Regions from separate parts of the Homo sapiens genome. Here region 1 is linked to region 2. Evidence: fine-mapped QTL for protein levels in blood plasma. A gene starts in region 2. The other region holds a variant in brackets. All regions are shown on one strand. Distances are between the middles of the regions.

Evidence for each region. A credible set is the group of variants that fine-mapping cannot tell apart. PIP is the chance, under the fine-mapping model, that this variant and not a neighbour inherited with it causes the effect. Protein levels are from antibody-based Olink assays in UK Biobank. Linkage for the fine-mapping came from a reference panel and not from the study's own genotypes, which makes the PIPs less certain.
Region 1: its variant is the best candidate, but not a certain one, in a credible set for the plasma level of the GALNT5 protein (UK Biobank, PIP 0.85).

What each region holds. Positions count from the first base shown.
Region 1 is chr2:157,181,315-157,189,660 of GRCh38, forward strand. No RefSeq gene overlaps it. Among named protein-coding and RNA genes, the nearest start is that of GALNT5, 72 kb to the right of the region's middle. The variant A/G (reference allele first, on the strand shown) is at 3,654.
Region 2 is chr2:157,250,175-157,258,499 of GRCh38, forward strand. GALNT5 (polypeptide N-acetylgalactosaminyltransferase 5) reads left to right here and starts at 7,531. Exons shown (of 10, transcript NM_014568.3): 1 at 7,531-8,325. The coding sequence starts at 7,909.

The sequences.
Region 1 (8,346 bases), 69 kb before region 2:
GGAAGCATGCAATAAAAAAACCATAATATATAAGAAATTATAAACTACGTTAAAAGTTTTTCTTCATCTTTGAGAAACATGATCTTGAGAAACAACACATTGCTTAATCAGACGCCTCCCTGATACATATTTAGATTGTTACTAGGGCATTTCCCTAGGAGGCCAACTTACTAGAGCTAGAGATAAACTAGATGTGCCTTTCTAGACTTAAAAATGACAAATGCCAAGCTTGTGTGGGTTTGGAGAGAGAAATGTGTATGTATGCATATAGGTTTAAGTTTAAACACCTTATGGACTACTATCAAATCTCACATACATGTCTTAAGCTCTAAATCCTATATCCTTAGCACCATACAATGCTGCCTTTCCAAGGAATTAAGCAAGCTTGTTGGAATCTATGAAGGGACAATTGTGAATTGAAGCAGTGATATGCCTAAATGTTTAGAAAGTCAACAAACACATATGCAAGTCAATATAAATACAGAAATAGGTCAGTAATTCCTTTTTACTACTTAGGAAGATGTACTATTCATTTAGAAAGCTAAGGAGAGACAAAATGTCTTTATACTAATTCCCTTAATTTAATCACACCAAATGTCAGGACAGTGTCATTTAAAATCCTTTAATGATTTTAAAACAAATGGTCCCTGTAGCAGAAAAATAGTTGAACTAACATTGCTAACATTAATTTAATTTCTTTGGAATTGAAATATTAAATGAACCCATTTTATCCCATTTACTTTTCAAATAGTGTTAGGAAATACCTGAGGACCTCTCAGCAAAAATCTAATAGGATCCTCCAATTTGTTCACCAGTTCAGGAGAACTATAATAGTGTATGAATTTAGTCTTTAGTAAATTCTATTTAATACATAAAAGAGAGTCTATTATTGCTATGTATGTTTCTCTACAACCTTTCTTTGTGAAGATTACAGGCCCAATTTATCAACATCAGAAACTTACTTAGCATGGTTGCGTATTCTATATATATTTTTTCCAACGTTAATGTGAGTCATCATAGCATATCTCCTTAACCATATGTGCTAGAGCTAAGGACAGACAGTTATTTTAATATTCCTGGCCTAGAATCCTTCCCACAACAAACACATTTGATGCTCATACATGGTCCCTTTCTTGCCGACACTCACGCCTGTCAAAATGGCATGGTGCCTACTCAACATATGGACTGCTAGCTTTTCTCACTGGGGCACAGTTGCCAAAGAAAGATGGGTTAAGCTGGGCACCCTGCGTAGCAAAGCAGGTGACAGCTCTCCCGTCCTCCATCATGTGGCTGTAAATCCTCTAGCCACATGCCACTTCCTACCCTATCTTTTACAGGAAAAGGAAAAGGAGAGGGATCTTTAACAGTATTCCTTTGACTTTCAGACTGTTTCTACTTAGTGCCTTTGCTCTCACTACCTTATATTCATGGAAAGGAAATCTATCCTCTGCCAAAAACACATTGAAATTTAAAAATCATTTGGAAGCACACAGTTGTAAGAAAAGTTGATAGCCAGCAAAGGCATTAAGTATATGTGTGTGCATGCATGCAAATGCACACACATGCACATACACACACACACACAGGAAATACGTGTTGTTTCCACCCTTGTTTCTCATTTTCCACCTAGAATAGACTAGAGCTGGGTGGCCACAGCAGCATTAAGTGTTGAAGATAGAACTTAGTGATTGTTTAAGTCTTGTACAAATAGAGCTGTTTGATTACGTTAATCCAGTGAATCATTTCCTCCCTAACCAGGCTACATCCTGTTTGGTTTGCAATTTTTATTTTAAAATTTCCAAATCAATTTTTATTTGTCCAAATGAGTTTGTTTTGGCAATAACAGAAAAGTATCAAGTTTCCCCAAACAAAGACTTTTCCTCATGTCTTTGTGTCTTCGTCATTCTACAGGAAACCCAAATAAGGTGTCAGTCTGAGTCTGTCTTCTGAGTCCAGAGACTACAGGGATTCCTCCTTCCATCTTACCAAACAAACCCATCTGAACTAAGAGATTAAATTTAAATTGTGGCCTGGGGTTGAGGCCATGGATCAACTAATTAATTATTACCCCTGCCTGCTCTGTGCCAGGGACTTTTAGAGCAATTTTCTCATTTTATCGTGAGAGCATGTCTGCAATGTAGGAGTCGGCATTACTTCCATTTTAGAGGTGGTATAGAAATCTGATCGATAATCTCTGCATGATAGCTAGTTAGCACTGTTCTTTAATAATAAAAATAGCTAATATTTATTAAAATTTTACTGTGCACTGTTCTAAAAATCCTATGCATCTCGGCTCATTTACAAAGACATGAGGGAATCCCTGTCAATATCTATAATGTATAGCTGAGGAAAAGGAGGCACTGAGAAGTTAACTGATTTATCTAAGGTCACAACTACTAAGTAGAGCTACCAGAATTCATACCTGTATAGTCTGACTCTTGAGCTGTTGTTCTTAGCCACTGCTTTAATTATTCTAGGTGATACTTATACACATTCTCCAACAATTCTTTTTTTTTTTTTTTTTTTTGAGACTTGCTCTGTCTCCCAGGCTGGAGTGCAGTGGCACGATTTCAGCTCACTCACTCCACCTCCTGGATTCAAGCAATTCTCTTGCCTCAGCCTCCCGAGTAGCTGGGATTACAGGCGTGCATCACCATGACCGGCTAATTTTTTTTTTTTTTTTTTTTTTTTTTTGTATTTTTAGTGGAGACGGGGTTTCACCATGTTGGCCAGGCTGGTCTCTAGTGATCCACCTCCACACACATGTACATACACACACACACAGGAAATACGTGTTGTTTCCACCCTTGTTTCTCGTTTTCCACCTAGAATAGACTAGAGCTGGGTGGCGACAGCAGCCTGACCTCCAGTGATCCACCCGCCTCTGCCTCCCAAAGTGCTGGGATTACAGGCATTAGCCACTGCACCCGACCTCCAACAATTCTTTAGTCTTGTTCCTTGTTTGTACCTTAAGGACCAAGAATCATGCTACTTTAAAGCACAATTTCATCATGCTGCTGCTCTGCTGGGAATCCTCTCCAGCTCTCCATTTCCAAACAAACAAACAAAAAGTTAGATTACCATCTTGGCATTTAAGACACCAAATATATTCTGGTTTCTATCAAACCTTCCAAGCTGACTCTTCCAATTTGGTCTTGTATGTTCTACCCTTGACCATCTTTACACATTTACTTGTGTGATTTTTTTGTTCCTAGTCTGTGGTGTCCTTGCTGTTTCTCCTTATCCATGCAAAACATCTCAGGTTCTATTTCTACTATGAGTATTCCCTCTATCCACTTCATCTCACAGCAATTTCCCCAACCACTAAATCTCTGGAGCACTTGCCAAGGTATCACTTGCTCAGAATGCTCAACAATACTGTCATTGCAATGCTGCTCAGAATGTTGAGCATATACCATGCACTGTTCTCAGATGTGTAATCTCCCCATTAGCATAGTATGTATAATCTCCCCAATCTCTTTGAAACAATAAATCATGCCTGTATTTTTGTGGTATGTCATAATACCTACTACATTTCTTGAACAAGCCATGTCTTGAACAGTCTCCAATAATTTGTGTCTACCATTGTATTTCTAGATTTGTACTCCTTGAGAGTGATTCTTTTTGAAAGTTTTGAGTTTCGTAAGGCCTCA[A/G]TTACAAACTTAGATGTGATCACTTTACAAAAGGTTACCTTCTAACCAGTACCAACTATTTGCATCATTCTGAAAGATCAGTATCAATATGAGGAAAAAAGAATTCTATCTCAATAATAGACCTCTCAAAGATGAATTCCTTCCAAACATCATGTTTTATAAAAGAGTGAAGGTTTTAATTTCTTAATAGTTTTAGTTACATATGCCAGGAAATGGAAGGCCACTATTACATTTATTTCATTTTTTAAACATCATACTATCTATCATTTGCATGAATAAATACATCACCCAAAATGAAAACTTTTATTATTCTGAGAAAATAAGATCTGTGCATTTGCTGCTTAATTTTTAATAGTCAATTGTTACTTAGAATTAATTTAAAAGTTCATTTAGTAATATATATGAACAAATATTAGTGGTATTCCTGGAAAACCTTTTCTGCAGTCCTGCCAAGCATCCAGAAAATTGTCTTGTTGACTTCTCAAGGGTGTTTCAACTCTTTGATTCTAGGAATCCAGGATTCTTTGCCTGTCTACCCCCTCTGGTTAAAGGCAACCACTTTGGTCTCATTCTCTCTCACGCATTTTGGAAGGTCTCCAAGTGTAAAATGGTACAACATATGTAGCCTGCAAGCAGGGCAGGCATAAGAAACACCATAAGGATACACTAAAGCAAACTTCAAGCTGTGGAACGCTGGGAAACAATCACAGGCAACACACCAACTTGGCATAAAACAATCAGAGAATGAGGTGGCTTTTTTCAAGCAAAAGCATCATACTGGCTGAGGCGAAGAGGACCACAAAGATAGAAATATTGTACCCAGCAGTTAATGCTGCTAGCCAAGAGTGATCTTCAGAGGTACAGTGCAGAAAGGGGTGATGGTCACACGTTCTTCCCATTTATATTCACATGCCTGAAAATACTGCCCCAGCATCAGTCTCTTTCACTGTAACTACATATCTATGCATGCTAAATGAAACCTGCTCTATCTTTCCAACCCTTCTTTCCCTAGTGAATTCCTACTCATTCTTAAGAATGCATTTCAAAGGTCAACCTCTCAGCAAAGTCTTCCCTGACTACTCCTGGAAGAGTTAACAGCTCCCTCTTCTGCAGTCTCTCAGTATTTTATGGCATTTATAACATCATGTTATATTTATGTACTTATGGGCCTGTGTTCTGGATATACTGTAAGCTCCTTCAGAGCACAGACCAGGTCCTTTTTATTCACTATCATATCCCAAGTGACCACTATGGTGATCTATACTCAGAAGGCACTGCATATGTTTGTTGGGTGAATAAATGAAAGTACCTATTTCCATCTTTCCTTTATTTGTTTACTAAGTATTTATCAAATGCCTGTTTATGTGCATTGTTCCAGACACTTGAGAAACAGCAGCAAACCACAGACATACACTCTTCCATCATAGAATTATATTATATTGGGGGGAGACAGAAAACAAACATGAAAAATAAAAAGACATTGTTTTTGTTGCATCGTGATAAATGATGAGAGAAATTACAATGCAAAGAAAGGGGACAGGGAATCTTAGAGGAAGGCTGTAACCTCAAATAGGGTGGTTACCTCACGGAGAACATATTATTTAGGTAAACACCTGAGGAGAAGAGGGAGAGGGCCTCATAAATATCAGAGAAAAAGAGGAGTACAGAGAAAAGCACAAGCACAAAGGCCTTGGGCAGGAAAGGATTTGAAAGCATTCAATGTCTACATATAGTTCCCAGAATGTGGCAGAATAATGTACAATGAATTGATCTAGGAGACTCAATAAAATAAGTAAAGCATTAAAGTAATTTACAAAAGAGACTCAAGGAATTTAGACATTGACTCTAAGTATTTAAGATAATGTAATTCCAAAGCATTCTCTATCAACTCAGTAAAATTCAAATTCAATATTGCCCTGTAAAGTCTACAATTTCTGTCAGGGCTGATATTTTTAAGTGGGGAAAATTCCTTTAGGCTCAGTCAGACCAAGGAAGAAAGTCTTAGTTTTTCTTCTCAAACTGACCTACCCTTAGATCAATCTTTCACATGGTTTGGTAAATAAGTCTCTTTATAGTTCATGGGCTAACAATTCCTGATTCATAAAGAATTTTCCTTCTTCTCTCTCAATGGTGCTAACTCTTTGACCTCCATTCTCACACGCTTTGTTTCTGATCCCCAGCTCCCAAACTTCGTGGACCATCTATTTCTTTACCACCATGGCAAATACTCTTGACAGAGCACCAGAGATGCCTGAGCCTTAGAGTCCAGACTTTATCCACCTGATTCTGAAGTCAACCCCATGGTTTTGGAAATTCTCTTGCCACTCTCACTGACCCAACCATCCGCAAAGGTTGAAATAGTCAGTCGGGCACGGTGACTCACGCCTGTAATCCCAGCACTTTGGGAGGCCGAGGCAGGTGGATCACCTGAGGTCAGGAGTTCAAGACCAGCCTGGTCAACATGGTGAAACCCCGTCTCTACTGAAACAAATATAAAAATTAGCTGGGTGTGGTGACGGGCGCCTGTAATCCCAGCTACTTGGGAGGCTGAGGCAGGAGAATTGCTTGAACCTGGGAAGCAGAGGTTGCAGGGAGCCGAGATTGCGCCACTACACTCCAGCCTGGGTGACAATAGTGAGACTCCATCTCAAAAAAAAAAAAAATAGTCAGTCATGATAGGGAAAGGCTGCCCCTTATTTAACTCCCCTCCTCACTGTTTCCTTATTTTGCTGTTTTAAACTGTTATCTCTGCAGCACATCTACAATTCTGCATATAAAGTTTACAGCAAAATAATAAGTTTTATTTTATAAAAAAACTTTATTAAAAATAATTTTCCTATGAACTGAGGGGTGTGAAAGTTGTTTAATACTATAATCATACTAGAATAAAGGCCTTAACCTAGTGTCATTTTGTAAATATGTGCATTTTCACAGGGAGAAAGTCCATAGTTTTCAACAAATTCTCAAGAGAATCAACTATATTTGTAAAATAAGATAGTAAAAACCAAAGAACTGTTTTTTAGGAACATGAATTAACAAGATAAAGAGCCTTCTGCAATGATATTTAGAAGGCAATGTATACCTGCTCAAGATATAGGCAATATTAAAAAAGAGACTATCAGTCAACATTAACTTACCAGACTGATTAAAATTCTGTGCCAATTAAGAAATCTGAAAACTCCAACTAAAAAACAAATATGTATTCTCATTATTAACTATCTATTTTTTAATGAAAGATTATCCAAAAGAGAACAGTTAAGGGCATATGAGAGTTATATAGAAGGCTACAACTAGTGACTTTACCAGTGACCTTACCATACTATTAAAAAATCACTATATACATGCACAAGAATGAAAGTGTATTCTTTCATTGTAGAAATTACAAATACTACTGTATCAAGGTACCACCAAGGTGACTGTTTCAGAACACAGGCCGGGGGACCTATTTTCTGTTCCTGCTTTGGTCTTTGTCTCTCTCCATGCACCTTGAAAAGATGTGTTAGTCTTTATATCTCCTTTTTTTCCCCATAAAGTCACAGAACCACTTGTTTATTATTTACTTTTTAGTGTATTCAGAGAAAATTTTAAATATCAGGCCAGTTTTTCATAACTACTCAAGATATTCTGTTCACTACCATGCAAATACCCCTTCAGGAGATGCAAATTACTTTTATTATTATATTAAGAACTGCAAAGTGAAGCCAAAGAATAATTCAGTGAGTTACATAATATGTGTTCTAAAGATGGATATAAAATAATTTTAAATTATATTTTTGTTGTAATAACAATTCCGTTCATGTTCTCTGCTAGAATATGACAGCATTTGGCAAAGGTGATGCACGAACCCCAGGGTGTTGTACAAGACAGTCAATTAGGTTTGGAAGGAAAATAATTAGCCTTGTACTTATATTTACATTGGCTTTATGATATCATACTCCTTGTTTCCCATCCTTTGTGTATGTGATGCAAAGTAAATAAATTATAGTATTTTATAATATATTGGATACTAGTTTGCTGTAGTCTACATAAGCATACTAGTTTTGATACACTTTATTGTTACTACTACTACTGTCTTATTACTAAATTGTTAATATACTATATAATTATAAAAGAAATATGTAGTGTAGTCCTGTATGCATATAATCTAGTAAACAAATATTCACAGTTTGTAGGGCAAACGCATGCCAAAAAGATTTACTGGCTATGGAGTTTATTATTAAAATCAGTTTGGAGACCACTGGTGCTGTAGTGTGACGCTTAAGGATTCAATCAACAACACACAAGTAAAAATATAAATGTAGAAAAGCACATTGAGTAAGGATAACGGTGTTGCCTTCACTATTGACACCTATGAAATGGAATTTTAATAGGGCATGTTGGAGGGTGGTCAACAGAGACAATTTTGCTAATTAATATGGATGGAGGATGTTACTTTAAGAAGGGTATGGAACACCTGAAAGTGTCTAGTTGAGAAAGAAGAAATAGCAATCGTGTGTGCATGCCTCCCAAGCGCCTTGTTGGCCTGTCTCTCTCAAGAAGTGTATGATTAAGACATACAAGTTTCCAGTCATCAGTGTAAACAGGATTTTGATTTGGTTTGGGAAAGCAAGCATAAAGAAATTATACGTATCAAAAAGAGTAGATAGGTCACAGTGTCTGTAGTTCTTATGGAAGAGGGAAGCACAAAAAGCCC
Region 2 (8,325 bases):
TTTTAAGTAAAAATTGGCTAGGGACCTGTAAAGTAGTATAGCACAAATGTTGGCTTAGCCTCACTACTCAAAAATCAATGAAAACTGAGGTCTAAACACAATAAATTGTCTTTCAATAATAGGGTTCTTGTTTTTTTAAACTTAGGCTTAACCAATTATGATTTATCACTAATACAGGCAACCCTTTTCAAGAACAAATGTGTAAAGGGTATACTGATTCTCTTGGTCTTAGGAAATAAGGTCATTTGTTAGTCAGCTTCCAAATTTTATTTAAAAAGAGACATACACCAATGTTTAATGACTGCCAGAAGTTGTAACTATTCATCTTCATTGGAAGAATTAGTTAAAATGGAATAATATTTCCATTTGTATTTTTACTCTACCTGTTGATATTGCAATAATGCCTGCCTTTTAGTATATGATTTTAAAACTTTTCTTTCCTTTTATGGATTTGTTTCACAGGATGTTATTATCCAGTTGATTACAACTTGTCTCTTCTCTAAAAAAGAGAAAGAGAGAATTTGGAAAGAAAAAAATCACATTAAAATCCGAAAAAAACAGTAATTAGTATTTACTTGGTTTTCCCATTTAAATTTTCTAATTAGTATCTTCATCCTGTATTGTCTGAAGTCGCAATGAGTTGAAATTAATTATCCATGTGGATATCCAATTTTTCCAACACCATTTATTGAATAAACTACCTTTTCCACTTTATGCATTCTTGGCTGTTTTGTCAAAGAACAACTGATTGTAAACTTGTGGATTTATTTCCGGGCTCTCTGTTCTGTGCCATTGGTCTATGTGGCTGATTTTATGGCAGTATCATATACTTTTTATTGACACAGAGTCTTGCTCTGTCACCCAACCTGGAGAACAGCAGTACAAACTCGGTTCACTGCAACCTCGACCTCTTGAGCTCAAGCTATCCTCCCACCTCTGCCTCCCAAGTAGCTAGGACCATAGAGGTGCACCACGATGCCCTGCTAATTTTTTTATTTTTTGTAGAGATGGGGGTCTCATAATGTTGCCCAGGCTTGTCTCAAGACAGTAGTATACTATTTTGATTGCTATAACTTGGTAGCATATTTTTGAAGTCAGGTACTATGATGCCTCTAGCTTCTTCTTTCTCAAGATTTTTTTGACTATTCGATATCTTTTATGGTTCCATACAAATTTTAGGATTTTTTTTCTATGTCTGTGAAAAACGCCAGAATTTTGATAGACATTTTATTGAATTTATAGATGACTTTGGTTTGTATGAACATTTTAAGAATACTAATTATTTCAATCTGTGAACACAGTATATATTTCCATTTGTTTATGTCTTCCATTTCTTTCATCAATATTTTATAGTTTTCAGTACACAGAGATTTCACCTTCTTAGTTAAAAATGCTTTCATCTCCTTGGTTAAAAAATATTTATTCCTAAGTACTTTTATGCTATTGTAAATAGGCTTGTTTGCTTAATTTCTTTGTGGTTTAAAATCAACTCAATGTTGATTAAAGACCTAAACAGAAGACCTAAAAGTGTAAAACTACTGAAAGTAAACACAGGGAAAAATCTTGACATTGGTCTGAGTGGTGATTATTTGGAACTCCGAAAGCACAGATAACAAAAACAAAAATAGACAAATGACACTGCAGGAAACTAAAAAGTTTCTGCACAGCCAAGAAAACAATCAACAGAGTGAAAAGACAACCTATGGATGACAGACTATATTTGCAAACCATACATCCAATAAGGAGTTAATATCTCAAATATATAACCATGTTTATTGCGCTCCTACTGATTGACAAAGAGCTCAACTCAATATCAAGAAAGCAACTGGATTTAAAAATAGGGAAAAAAAATGAGTAGACCTTTTTCAAAAGAAGACATACAAATGGCCAACAGGCATATTTTTAAAATGCTTAACATCACTAATCAGTAAGGAAGTGCAAATCAAAACCACAATAAGATATCACCTCATACATTTTGGAATGGCTATGATGAAAAAGATATAAGATAACAAGTGTTGGTAAGGATATGGAGAAAGGGGAACACTTGTACACTGATGGTGGGAATGTAAATTAGTACAACCATTATCGAAAACAGTGTGGAGTTTCCTCAAAAAAACTAAAAAATAGAATTACCATATGACCCAGCAATCACACTTCTGGCTATATATCCAGAGGAAATTAAATCAGCACCTTGAAGAGATAGCTGCAGTCTCATGTTCGTTGCACCATTACGCATAATAGCCTAGATATGGAATTCACCTAAGTGTCCATCAACAGATGAATGAATAAAGAAAGTGCAACATACATACATATATATCACACACACACACACACACACACACACACACACACACAAGAATGTTATTTTGCCTCAAAAAAGAAGAAAATCCTATCATTTGCAACACTGTGGATGAACCTGGAGGACGTTACACTAAGTGAAATAAGCCAGGCATAGAAAGACAAATACTGCATGATCTCATTCATATGCGGAAGCTAAAAAATTGAACTCATAGAAGTAGAGAGTAGAATGGTGGTTACTGCGGGTTGGGGGATGGAGAAAGTTGGAAGGTATTGGTCAAAGAATACAAAGTTTCAGTTACGCAGGATTAGTAAGTTCTGGAGAGCTAATGTACAGCCTGATGACCATAGTTGATAATAATATATTGTATACTTGAAACTTGCTAAGAGAGTAGATCTTAAATGTTCTCACCACACACAAAAAAAGATAATTATGTGAGATAATGGAGATCAGCTGCATTGAGGCAATCATACCACAATGTATAAGGCTATCCAAAGTCATGTTGTACACCTTAAATATTTAATATATGTATCATTTTATTAGTCAATTATAGCTCAGTAAAACTGGGGAAAAAGAAATTCAGTGATGCATCCATGGATAATCATTATTCTCTGTAAAATATACATTTAAATTAATTTTCCTTTTACATCTTTCTTTTTACTTAGGAGTGAGTAGTTGAGTAAATATCATAAAATAAAACAGATATTAGTTACTTAGGATATACTCACATAGTCAAGAAATCTTCAAATACCCAGATAAAGTAACTGTAGATGCAAAGCCAGAGAGCTGGAACCGGTGTTTCTAAGATTCTGTACTTCCATCAGGGAGATTTAAGGCTAGATATAAAACAGTGTTTACTGAGCTCCTACTTGATTAACAATGAGGATGATTCAAAGACATTTGCCATGAGAATATAACACAAATATACTTTTCACTCTAACTTTATGCAGATCTGTTTTGCTGAACAGTTTTTGATCTAGTCTGAGAAAATTAAATGTTGAGGATTAAATGAGATACCGTGAAGTGACTAGTGGTAGGCCCTCAGTAAATTCCCAATGAAAGGTTGCTATTAATATGATTATCCTGACAACAACCAAATAGAGTAGAGGGCAAGTCCTCCTACTATTATGCTCGTTTTACAGAAGAAGAAACTAAAATCTGTTTTTAAATGTTTAGTACAAGCTGGAGTCAGACTGATAATTGGAATAACCCCTCCAAATGTCTCCCAAGGATAATTCGTAACTCCAGATTTTCAGATGGATATCATCTCCAACTAAGTATGTACAGATTCTTGAGAAATTTGACCAGCCAAAGGTACCTGCATTCTACGACTTGGGATGACAAGCCAGGCTCCCTAACTGTGGGGTACCTCAAATAACCAACCCACTTACGTATTTAGTTTCCTGCTGGTAACATGGAAATTAATACAACTAAAATTTTAGAAGCACCGTCATTTACCAATATACAAATGTCATGTGTTGGGCAATATGTGTGTTGATGAAAAGGTAGAATTTCCTAATATCCTTTTTTTTCTATTCCTTTTACCTATGCAATTCATTGATCTGAGATGTGAAACAGCATGTGTGTCGGAAAAGAGAAAAAAAAGGAGAAAGATGTACAGCTATGAGGGCCACAGAAATTATTACTGAGTGCCTGAAGACACATAGTGTTGAATTAGTGGTATGGCTTATAACCAACTTCTACCATCATCACAGATTATCATAAACTCACAAGGGAAAAGACCAAGAAGAGGCTGGGAAGAGAACCTTACACAAGCTTTTCCATGTGTGACACATCCATAGTCATATGGCTATTAGTGGCCAAGTCAGTACTTTAGACCAGGTCTGACAACAAATCTACTCCTCCATTTCTAGGATATTTAATCAATGTTTCCTTACTCTCCTACCCACTCTTCACATTTCATTCTGAATTGTATGTCAAATAGACCGAAGACTAAGCCAGAGTTAATGTGTTGCTTTACCCATGATAGATAAGCCAAGATTCCCTTTTAATTTTCTTAACATGTTGCTCTCCTGTTGCAAGTAATTTGTGTTTTGATTCGCAAGGACAAACCAGAGAGGGATAAAAAGAAATCAGTACTCTTTGATAAAATTTATATGGAAACAAGAATATATTTCAAGCAGTGTTTTAAACTGCCAAGCATAGAATATAACAAGTGTTGACTTTCCTAAAAGACATTTGAGTAATTCCAACTGCCATTTGGGGTGGGATGGTGGCTGGACAAGATTGAATCATGCAGAGTAAAATAATTTTAAAGTATTCTATTTTCATGTTTAAAACAATATTGTAATGCAAACCATTTATCCATGATGCTAAAAAAAATTCTCACTTTATTTTCGAATGTGGATGCTAAAGATGTGTGCTATGTTTTTTGCTGGTGGCGTTCTTTTTTTATTATTATTATTATTATACTGGTGGCGTTCTACTGAGGGGAGTTTTAAGGTTGTTAGGGGCAGAGACAATGTCACCTACTTCATGTTTTGGGCATGTAGGGAGTTCTCAGTGAACAATGGTCTTGTTAAATCTATAATTAGAGGAAATAAGAATGGCAAGAATAAAATAAAATACTCAGATTTGTTTCTTCCCCATTGCCAGAATCATGTTAGTCACTAGTTTTCTACTTGTTTTTTTGGGAAGAGCTGGTACATTGCCTCCCACATGCATCCGACACTCCTATTACAGCAAAGTATTAGCAACAATATGAATGGCTAACATTTAAAGAGTACCTTCAATATAACAATAACTTTAACCATTTTTAAATATTCTCACATTAATCTGCAAAGCAGAATTTTTTTTTATTGCTCAGTAACCACATAAAATTAACTAGCCTGCAAGATCATACAGCTAGAGAGCAGTATTGTGTGATATTGAAGCACACGGACTACAGTCGTGTATTCAAGACCCAACCCCTCCAATCTCTACCAGAAGTTGCTTTACCTCTCTAAGGTTTCATTTGCTGACTACAAAATACATATTGTAATTTACTCCTTCACATTAGATTCTTGTGAGGATTGAGTGAGATAGTCAATGGAAAGAACTTAGCAAAGTGCTTGAGATATATATATGAATTTGGAATCTCTCCTTCCCCTCCCAAGTCATTGGGAACATAAGTTTACCTCAAAGCATGGAAGCTAGACCCTCCCCACACTAGAGTAATGAACAGCAGTGTTGTCCACAAATCACTCAGAGTTCCTCAGAGAGAAGGACAGTGGTCCCGAGAAGTGCTTCTCAAACTCTATGGACAATCTTTACAACTGGCAATGTCAAAATGTGTATTCTGATTTAGTTGTTATGGGAATGCATAGATTTTATTAGACTGTACTTTAGACAGGGAAGGAATGTCACACAAGTTGTAGACTGTATTGGCCAGGATTTTTCAGAGAAACAGAACCAATAGGATTCATAGAGGTAGATAAGTGAGTTGCAGTTTATTACAGGAATTGGCTCATGTGGTTATGGAGACTGAGAAACCTCAGTCCAGGCCACCTGCAAGCTGGAGAACCAGGAAAGCCAGTAACATGGCACATTCTGAGTCCAAAGGCCTGAGAACCAGGGAAGCCAATAACATCACTCTCAGTCTGAGGTCAAAAGCCTGAGAACCTAGTGAGGGATGTGGAGGTTGTGGGGGCAGACTGGTACAAGCCCCAGAGGCCAAAGCCAGAGAATCTAAAGTTCTAGTCCAAAGGCAGAAGAAGAAAGATGTCCCAGCTCACTAACAGAGACAGAATCCACCTTTCCTCTGCCTTTTTTTCTATCTGGGCCCTCAACCAATTAGTGGTGCCTGCCCACATTGGGTGAGGGCATCTCCTCCCCACTCAGTGCACTGAGTCAAATGCCAATCTCTTCTGGAAACACCCTCACAGATATACCTAAAAATAATGCTTTACTGGTTCTCTGGGTGTTCCTTAGCCCAGTCAAGTAGACACCTAAAATTAAATGTCTCATAGGCAATGTTCAAAAACCAAAAACAAACAAACAAAAAATTGAGACTTTTTTTCTAGACCAGTGTTTCTCAACTTTAGCTGCACATTTGAAAGACCTGGGAAGCTTTGTAAAAAAAAAAAAAAAAAAAAAAATATATATATATATATATATATATATATATATATATATATATATTTAATACAATATCAGCCCAAATGTCATCTCCACCTCCTCTCTCATCAATTGACCAGAGTTTTGGGGATCTTGTTTCAAGTGGTTCTAATGAAAAGCCTGTGGCGGAACTGCTACCCTACCAGTCAACCAGCATCACTCAAAATCTGGTCCAAGTCCTGGTGTGGTCCTGAAACTGTTGCTTGCTGGTTTAAGACGAGATAAGTACTGAAACTGAGAGTAAGTGTATCTTAATCTGTTCAGGCTACTATAGAAGAATAACATAGACTAAGTGACTCATAAACAACAGAAACTTATTTCTCACAGTTCTAGAGACTGAGAAGTCAGAAATCAAGGCACCAGCAGATTCGTTGACTGGTGAAGGCCCATTTCCTGGTTCATAGATGGCACCTTCTCATTATGTCTTCACTTTGTGGAATGGCAAGGCAATAGGGCCTCTTTTTTAAGGGTGCTGATCCCATTCATGAGGGCTCTATCCTTATAATGAAATCACCTTCAAAAGCCCTACCTCCTAATACTATCACATTTATGATTAGGTTTCAACATATGAATTTTGGGTGGACATAAACATTCAGACCATAACAAAGTGTTTAGAAACTTTTATAGCAGTATGACAAATTAAGTTTATTTGTAATCAAATGTAATAATAAAAACAGATGGATTAGTGAAAAAAAAATAGTTGGCTTACAAAGAAATACATTGAAACCCCTTGAATGAATGATCTAAATAATTAAACATATACATCTCTGGAAGTGAGGATATACCAGGCCCCTTCTTTAAGCTGTTATGTCTTAAAGCTGAAATGTTAACTTCAGTGATAAATTCCTCAGGCAGAGCATTGGCACCTGGCTACAACAGGGTTAATGAGCAGGAGTAGGGTAGGTGGGGTCACAAACCAGGAACACATGCCCTCCAAGTTAGATAGCTTTTTTTCCTCTTTAATTGCCGTTTAAACACACATGCTCTCACATAACACAGAAGGTGAGAGCTGAATGAAGTTTTCTGGGTAATGGCATGAAATGTTTTCCTTATGAGAAGTGGTGTTGAGTTACAGCGTGCAGACGGAGAACGGGGAGGAGAGAAACGGCAGTCTCAATCTGGCCCCCACCTTTTCTTGGGCTTGTAGGAAGGTGGACATGGGCTCCCGGAGACAAGACAAGTGATATGTTGAACTGTTCGGTGGCTGGAATCAACTGCTCCTGGAGTGACCTAAGGCCAGTGTTTATCAGAACTTAGCCAGGGCCAGCCAAGCAGGCACAGATGCTCTGCTATGAAATGCCACGCAGGCAGAGACTGACAAGCGGTAGGAACTGAGCTTTCCCCTTGGACTGCTGCTTCCTGCTGTGTTCAGGGGAGGGGGTCACTTTCTGGCAACTCTGCTGCTGCTGCTGCTGCTGCTGCTACTTCAGCTTCCTCTCCACTCAAGGTAAGCAGGCTAAGGGAGGGCAGGCTGCTAGGGAAAGCTTTGTACCATGAACAGGATCCGAAAGTTTTTCCGAGGAAGTGGGCGAGTCTTGGCATTTATCTTTGTAGCTTCTGTCATCTGGCTCCTCTTTGACATGGCAGCTCTCCGCCTCTCATTCAGTGAGATCAACACTCGGGTCATCAAGGAAGACATTGTGAGGAGGGAGCGGATAGGATTCAGAGTTCAGCCAGACCAAGGAAAAATTTTTTACAGCAGCATAAAAGAGATGAAACCTCCCCTAAGGGGACATGGGAAAGGGGCATGGGGCAAAGAGAATGTTAGAAAAACTGAGGAGAGTGTGCTCAAGGTTGAGGTGGACTTGGACCAAACCCAGAGGGAAAGAAAAATGCAGAATGCCCTGGGAAGGGGCAAGGTTGTGCCGTTGTGGCATCCTGCACATCTGCAGACCCTCCCTGTGACTCCT